2 linked regions of the Homo sapiens genome follow. The protein of the gene in region 1 interacts with the protein of each later gene in a pairwise test. Each region holds a gene or a part of one and is shown on either strand. Other genes may lie near its edges.

What was found.
Region 2: the proteins of CAPN10 (region 1) and LITAF interact in a two-hybrid assay, tested with the Homo sapiens proteins (one large-scale study listed by IntAct).

Annotation. Positions count from the first base shown.
Region 1 is NC_000002.12:240,596,621-240,599,803, forward strand, and holds the end of CAPN10 (calpain-10), read left to right. Parts: intron 1-60; coding exon 61-322; intron 323-1,267; coding exon 1,268-1,467; intron 1,468-1,731; coding exon 1,732-1,777; intron 1,778-2,030; coding exon 2,031-2,060; 3' UTR 2,061-2,484; downstream 2,485-3,183.
Region 2 is NC_000016.10:11,559,342-11,563,153, reverse strand, and holds part of LITAF (lipopolysaccharide-induced tumor necrosis factor-alpha factor), read left to right. Parts: intron 1-1,987; exon of another isoform or gene 1,988-2,008; intron 2,009-3,812.

The sequences.
Region 1 (3,183 bases):
GGGAACTGAGGCCACCGGGAACCTGCTGCCAGCGCCCTCCCATGTTTGTCTTCTTGGCAGCGCCATCAGGGCAGTGGCCAAGAACACCACCCCCGGGGCAGCCCTGCCTGCGGGGGAGTGGGGGACCGTGCAGCTACGGGGTTCTTGGAGAGTCGGCCAGACGGCGGGGGGCAGCAGGAACTTTGCCTCATACCCCACCAACCCCTGCTTCCCCTTCTCGGTCCCCGAGGGCCCTGGCCCCCGCTGCGTCCGCATCACTCTGCATCAGCACTGCCGGCCCAGTGACACCGAGTTCCACCCCATCGGCTTCCATATCTTCCAGGCAAGCTCCTTGCCCCAGGGAGGGAGGGGGAGCAGAAGGGGCCCTCAGAGAATTTGCATCTTGGCCTCCATTGTCCCAACAGAGGGCTCTGGGCTCAGTCACTTGGGCTCCCCCTGCCCTTCGAGGCGCTGCCTAGAACCCGCACAGGGCCCTCTCCCATCTCCAACCTCTCAGAGGCAAGGCCGAAGATGGCCTCTGGAAGGGCCGGGGGCCTGGGAGGTGGGCAGGGCTGATCCAGGCAGGGCAGGTTTCCAGAGGAGGTGGTGAGTGGGGAGGAAGGGAGAAGTTTGGAGAGGACAGGAGGCCGAGGTTGAGACCAGCGGGGGTGGGTCGAGCCCTGGCTTGGGAACGCAGGGGGCTGATGGACTCAGGAGTGAGAGGAGGGGAGGCCCAGGCTGGCTGGCCACAGCAGCCCCTCGGGTGTGAGGAAGTCCACAGTCACTGAGCTCAGCCAGCAGCCCCTTGTCCACTTACCCTGACTCAGAATGACTGTGTCCCAAGGTTCATTCTCTGCAGACATGTGTCCCCTGGAATGCAGGGGCCCTGACGAGGAAGGCACTGCAACCCTCGGTTCACAGTGGGCTGCCTGGGGACCCTTGGACCCTCGCTGTTTGCCCTGGGCCACCGGCTCAGGTCCCCTAGAGCTCTGAGGAAAACACATGCCAGGGCCAGTGGGAGCCCTTGGGGCGGGCTGGGCAGTCACAGGTGTTAAAGCCCCTGATGATGTGACAGGCCTCCAGGCGGGGGCCCCACTGCCGGCACCTTCTGGCAAGGGTGGCCAGGCCTTGGTGAGGAGGCGAGTCCAGTGTCCAGGCCTGGCAGCCCCTCCTCAGAGAAGGGGCTGTATGTGACTCAAGAGGGCCAAGGGCATCCGAGCAGATGGCCCTGGGCTGGGCTCCCTACCCCAAGGCTGGCCCCCTCAGTCTGAGCCTGCGCTTTCCTCAGGTCCCAGAGGGTGGAAGGAGCCAGGACGCACCCCCACTGCTGCTGCAGGAGCCGCTGCTGAGCTGCGTGCCACATCGCTACGCCCAGGAGGTGAGCCGGCTCTGCCTCCTGCCTGCGGGCACCTACAAGGTTGTGCCCTCCACCTACCTGCCGGACACAGAGGGGGCCTTCACAGTGACCATCGCAACCAGGATTGACAGGTGGGGCTCTGGGACTTGGGGGCGGCCAGCTGGAGGCTGGGGTGCTGGAGTCTTAGTGCTCGCCTGTCCCCCCACGTCTCCTGCCTGCCCCTCACCCTCAAGCCCCTATCTGTCCTGGCAGACCAGGGCTGTCCTGCCTACCTGGGGACCCTTCCTTGCTGGTCTGAGCCTGGAAGGAGAGTCTAGTGGGAGGTGGGCCAGGAGCACACAGCCACTTGTGTGACAAGTGCAGTCTGGGAGCGCTGATCTGGTGTCTCTCCACAGGCCATCCATTCACAGCCAGGAGATGCTGGGCCAGTTCCTCCAAGAGGTGTGTATGCAGCCCCGCCAGCCCGGCTCACCTGCCTGGGGCTGCCTGGTGGCCTAGGGTCTACCTGCAACCTCAGGCAGGTGGTTTCTGCCTGGGACGTGAGGTGCCCTTGACTCTTCCTGTGAGAGCCCCGGGCGGTGCCTTGAAGGGCAGGGGGAGCTGAGGCTGCGTCCCATTCCCTGGCTGCACTCGGGGTGGGGTGTGAGAAGGGGCGAGTGCCACCGCTGCCCGGGCCCCCCATCTGTCTTTGCAGGTCTCCATCATGGCAGTGATGAAAACCTAACAGGGTGGCCCCCTGTGCCAGCTCAGGTGACTGGAGCCCGAGGGCCTGACAGGTTCCCAGCAGCTGGGCCGGCCAGCCTTGCACTGTGGGGGCTGGTCCTGAGTCTTGGCCTGCCTCCCAGCCCTGCCAGGAGGCTGCGGCCTAGGGGTCCACGGGAAGCCTCCGTCAGGAGAGACGCAGCCCTGGGGGCCAGCTGGTGCTGCAAGGAAGGGTGGGAAGCTTGCTGGCTTCTGTTGCGCCACTGAGACGGCAGAGACCCCAGGATCCCAGAGCTTCCCAGGATCCCTCCCAGATCCTCTGCTGACTCCATATGGAGGCCTCACACCCAGAGGGTAGGGCAGCAGATCTTCTTTATAACTATTTATTGTTCGAATCACTTTTAGGATGTAACTTTATAAATAAACATGAGCGCTGATGATTTGCAGATCAGTCTTGCTCCAGGTAGTTCCAGGCTGTGCCTGCTCTTGCCAAGCAGGCTGTGGGGAGGGCTGGGTGCCTGCCGAGATGGTGAGGATGAGGATGGCCTCTGGAGGGGCTGGGGGCCTGGGAGGTGGGCAGAGCCAACCCAGGCAGGGCAGGTTTCAGGGGGAGATGGTGAGTGGGGAGGAGGGGAGAAGTTTGGAGGGGCGGGCCCAGGGCATGCCCCAGGCCAGGGGGCTGAGGTTGAGGCTGGCCGGGGCAGGTCAAGCCCTGGTCTTGGGGGACACAGACTGATAGACTGGGGAGTGAGGGGTGGGGAGAGCCAGCGAAGGCACTGCCAAGGCTGTGGCGAAGAAGGACATCTCGGAAACGGGTGTTAGAACCGGAGTTGCGCAGAGGGAGGAACCCCAGGTTCACATGGACTGGGAGCCTTGGATCTGGACGGCTCCTCTGCCTCCAGCCAGGGTTCACCTGCGCAGTGTCCTAGGATTGTTTATTTCCCCAGGCCTCTCTCCCTCGTCCCTCACACCAAATGCTGTGATGAGAGCTGTAGTGTCACTGAACGGTGCAGAAGACAGTTCCAGACATGGGTGGGGAGGGCTGTCACTAAGCCCTTTTGTTTTAGAGACAGGGTCTTGCTCTGTTGCTCAGGCTGGAGTGCAGTGGCATGATCATAGCTCACTGCAGCCTCGACCTTCTGGGC
Region 2 (3,812 bases), on another chromosome or scaffold:
ATTATTATTATAATTTTTTTGTGTAGAGATATGGTCTCACTCTGTCACCCAGGCTGGAGTGCAGTGGTGTGATCACAGCTCACTGTAACCTCAAGCTCCCAGGCTCGAGCAAATCCTCCGACCTCAGCTTCCTTAATAGCTGGGACTACAAGTTTGTGCAACCGTGTCTGGCTAATATATATTTTTTAATTAAAAAAAATTTTTAAAGATTGTCTTTATATATGATTTTGTGACTCTATTTTTTTTTCTTTTGTTTTGAGACAAGGTCTTGCTCTGTCACCCAGGCTGGAGAGCAGTGGCGTGATCCTAGCTTATTGCAGTCTCAAACTCTTGGGCTCAAGTGATCCTCCTACCTTAGCCTCCAGAGCAGCCAGGACCACAGGCATCTGCCATAACGCCCGGCTAATTTTTGTACCATTTGTAGAGACATGGTCTGAATTTGTTTCCCAGACTGGTCTCAAACTCTTGGGCTCAAGTGATCTGCCCACGTCGGCCTCCCAAAGTGCTGGGATTACAGACGTGATCCAACATGCCTGGGCAAGAATACCTTTCGTTGAGCAAATTGTTGAGAGGTAGAATGAGGAAAACTTTTGGCTAAAAGGGACCCCAAGATATCCCAAGTGGCATATTTATAGATGTGAAAGTGATTCCACAGCTGGGCATGTCAGATCAAAATTCTCCATGGATCAGGAATGCCTCCTTTTCCTTTTCTGTCACCACCGGTCACATTTGGCTACTTAATTTCTGGGCTCCAGTGCAGCATGGAAACGCGAGGCCCTTTGTTCAAAAAGTGTTCGAATTTCTTTTCTTCCTTCTTTTTTTTTTTTTTTTTTTTTTTTTGAGACGGAGTCTCGCTCAGTCACCCAGGCTGGAGTGCAGTGACACGATCTCGGCTCACTGCAGCCTCCATCTCCCAGGTTCACAGTGTGGAGAGGCAGGGCACGGTGGCTCATGCCTGTAATCCCAGCACTTTGAGAGGCTGAGGCAGGAGGATCACTTGAGCCCAGGAGTTTATGACCATCCTGGGCAGCTTAGCAAGACCCTGTCTCTAAGTAAAATTAAAAAGTTATAGCCAGGTATGGTGACACACACCTGTAGTCCCACCTACTCCAGAGGCTGAGACAGGAGGATTGTTTGAGTCTACGAGTTTCAGGCTGTGGCGAGCTATGATCATGCCACTGTACTCCAGCCTGGGCAATAGAGTGAGACCCTGTTTCTCTCTTTCTTTCTCCCTTTCCCTCTTTTTTAAAAAAAAGACATTGTGGAGAGTGTGTGTGTGAGTTTAGGGTGAGGGGGACTAATTGCTGTTCTAAGAGTTTCGTAGTTGGGGGGGTGATAAGGAGGGGATGGGGGGTGATGAGGAGAGGGATGGTTGGTGGGTGGGCCTCTTATCCCAGGAGATAAGCCAAATTGAAATGAAGGCGCAAAACAAGGGAAACAAAATGGGACTAACCGTGGTGGCATTTCCTGGCCTTGGGGCCTGAGGGAGGGAAGACTGTGGAATTTATTTAGAAAACTTCCAAACCAGCGGTTATGAGTCTTTTTTACTATTCTGGCCTGTTGCTCTTGTTCTTTTCAGAATTATAAATGTGTTTGTGTGGCTGTTTGATCTCAAAGCAATGCTCAGAAGATGCAGTGTCTCGAAATCCCAGAAGATAAGATGTTACCACATGAAAGATGGTCTCAATAAAGGGGGAGAGGCGGTGGCCGAGGCCTTAATTTCCAAAACGAGAAACTGGGGCCCACCCATCTTTTAAAGGTCGTCAAAAGAAAGCTCCCATCCTCCCATCCCCCACACCTGTGTGTTGACTCTGTAAAGATGCAGTTTCCTCACTTTGGGAGGAGAGGCCGTGGTTTTTGCAGGAATTGCGCCGCTGCCGAATTCAGCCATTGCCTCTTGGAGGTTTAGGATGCCCCAGGCCTTGTTTTCCCTCAAAGCATTCCATTGGCAATCACGACCAACCATGCTCCTTGAGGATTTCTGTACACACTGGCTTTTCCTGGTCTTGTAAGTTTTTATACGAGTCAGTTTTCACCATAAATCATGGAGGTGGGTCTGGGGCTGTGACGGCGAGTCCTCGACGTTCAACCCGGATGTAGGTCACTCCAGACCCCCAGGGTGCCCTGTCGTTCCCTTTGCTGGAAGTTTCAACAAAGCCAGAAGCAGATGTCAGGGGTTCCCGGGGTCATCTGGGAGGGATGTCCGCTGAGTTTAGGGGCAAGCTGGGACTGCTGCATTTCTGTTCCTGTACGTCAGAGGAAACTAGCAACACGCCTCAAACCACTTTACACCATGTCTCAGTGTTAAACCAGAGCCTGTTTTCACAAACACCTCCTGCGATCTCATTACAGCCCCACCCTGCCCTCCTGCTTCTGTGGCCTTCTCTACTTTGCTTCTTGCTCCTCTTAAAGACCTTCTGTCTCATCTGTCTTTTCTGGGGTTGGGCCTTTCCCCTTCTCTATAACCTTCTGTGACTCCCACGGCTCACAGCTTTGCTGTATATTAGGAGCAGAAAGCAAGCTTCATTACATCATTTAAAATTTTTTAGTAGCTACATTTTTTTTTTTTTTGAGATGGAATCTCGCTCTGTGGCCCAGGCTGGAGTGCAGTGGTGTGATCTCAGCTCGCTGCAACCTCTGCCTCCCAGGTTAAGTGCTGGGATTACAGGCGCACGCCACCAGACCTGGCTAATTTCTGTATTTTTAGTAGAGATGGGGTTTCACCATGTTGGCCAGGCTGGTCTCGAACTCCTTACCTCAAATGATCCACCCATCTCAGCCTCCCAAAGTGCTGGGATTACAGGCATGAGCCACCGTGCCTGGCCGCCACATTTAATGTATTTATTTATTGATTTTTGAGACAGAGTCTCACTCTGTTGCCCAGGCTAGAGTGCAATGGCGCAATCTCAGCTCCCTGCAACCTCCACCTCCCGTGTTCAAGTGATTATCCTGCCTCAGCCTCCTGAGTAGCTGGGATTACAGGCGCCCAATATCACACCTGGCTAATTTTTGTATTTTTAGTAGAGACGGGGTTTCACCATGTTGGCCAGGCTGGTCTCAAACTCCTGACCTCAGGCGATCCGTCTGCCTTGGCCTCCCAAAGTACTGGGATTATAGTCGTGAGCCACTGTGTCTGGCCTCTTTTTTATTTATTTTGTTTTTATTTATTTATTTTTGAGACAGTCTCGCCCAGGCTGGAGTGCAGTGGCGCAGTCACGGCTCACTTGAACTCCTGGGTTTAAGTGATTCTCCCACCTCAGCCTCCCAAGTAGCTGGGACCACAGGGGTGCACCACCATGTCTGGCTAATTTTTAATTTTTTTGTAGAGACAGTGTCTCCCTATGTTGCTCAGGCTGATCTAGAATGCCTGGGCTCAAGCCATCCTCCTGCCTCAGCCTCCCAAAGTGCTGGGATGACAGGTGTAAGCCACCATGCCCGGCCTAGTAGCCACATTTTGAAAGGTACAAAGAAACAGGTGAAATTAACAATACATTTTACTTAACTTCATATATCTAAGCTGTGGTCATTTTAATATATCAATATAAGAAATTATTAATGAGATATTTTACATTCATTTTTTCCTACTAAGTTTTGAAACCCAGGGTGTATTTTTACATTGACATTCTATCCCAAATTGAATGCTAAATTTTTATCAAAAAACATTTTGATCTATATTCAGTGTTCATCAAATTTACCATTGAAAAAATGATTCATATATTCAAGTTGTCCCAGACTTACATAAAAGCTTCCCAATAATTGAATTGTTAGTTTTCACATTTAAATTGCTTAAACTTAAATACAAGTAAAAATTC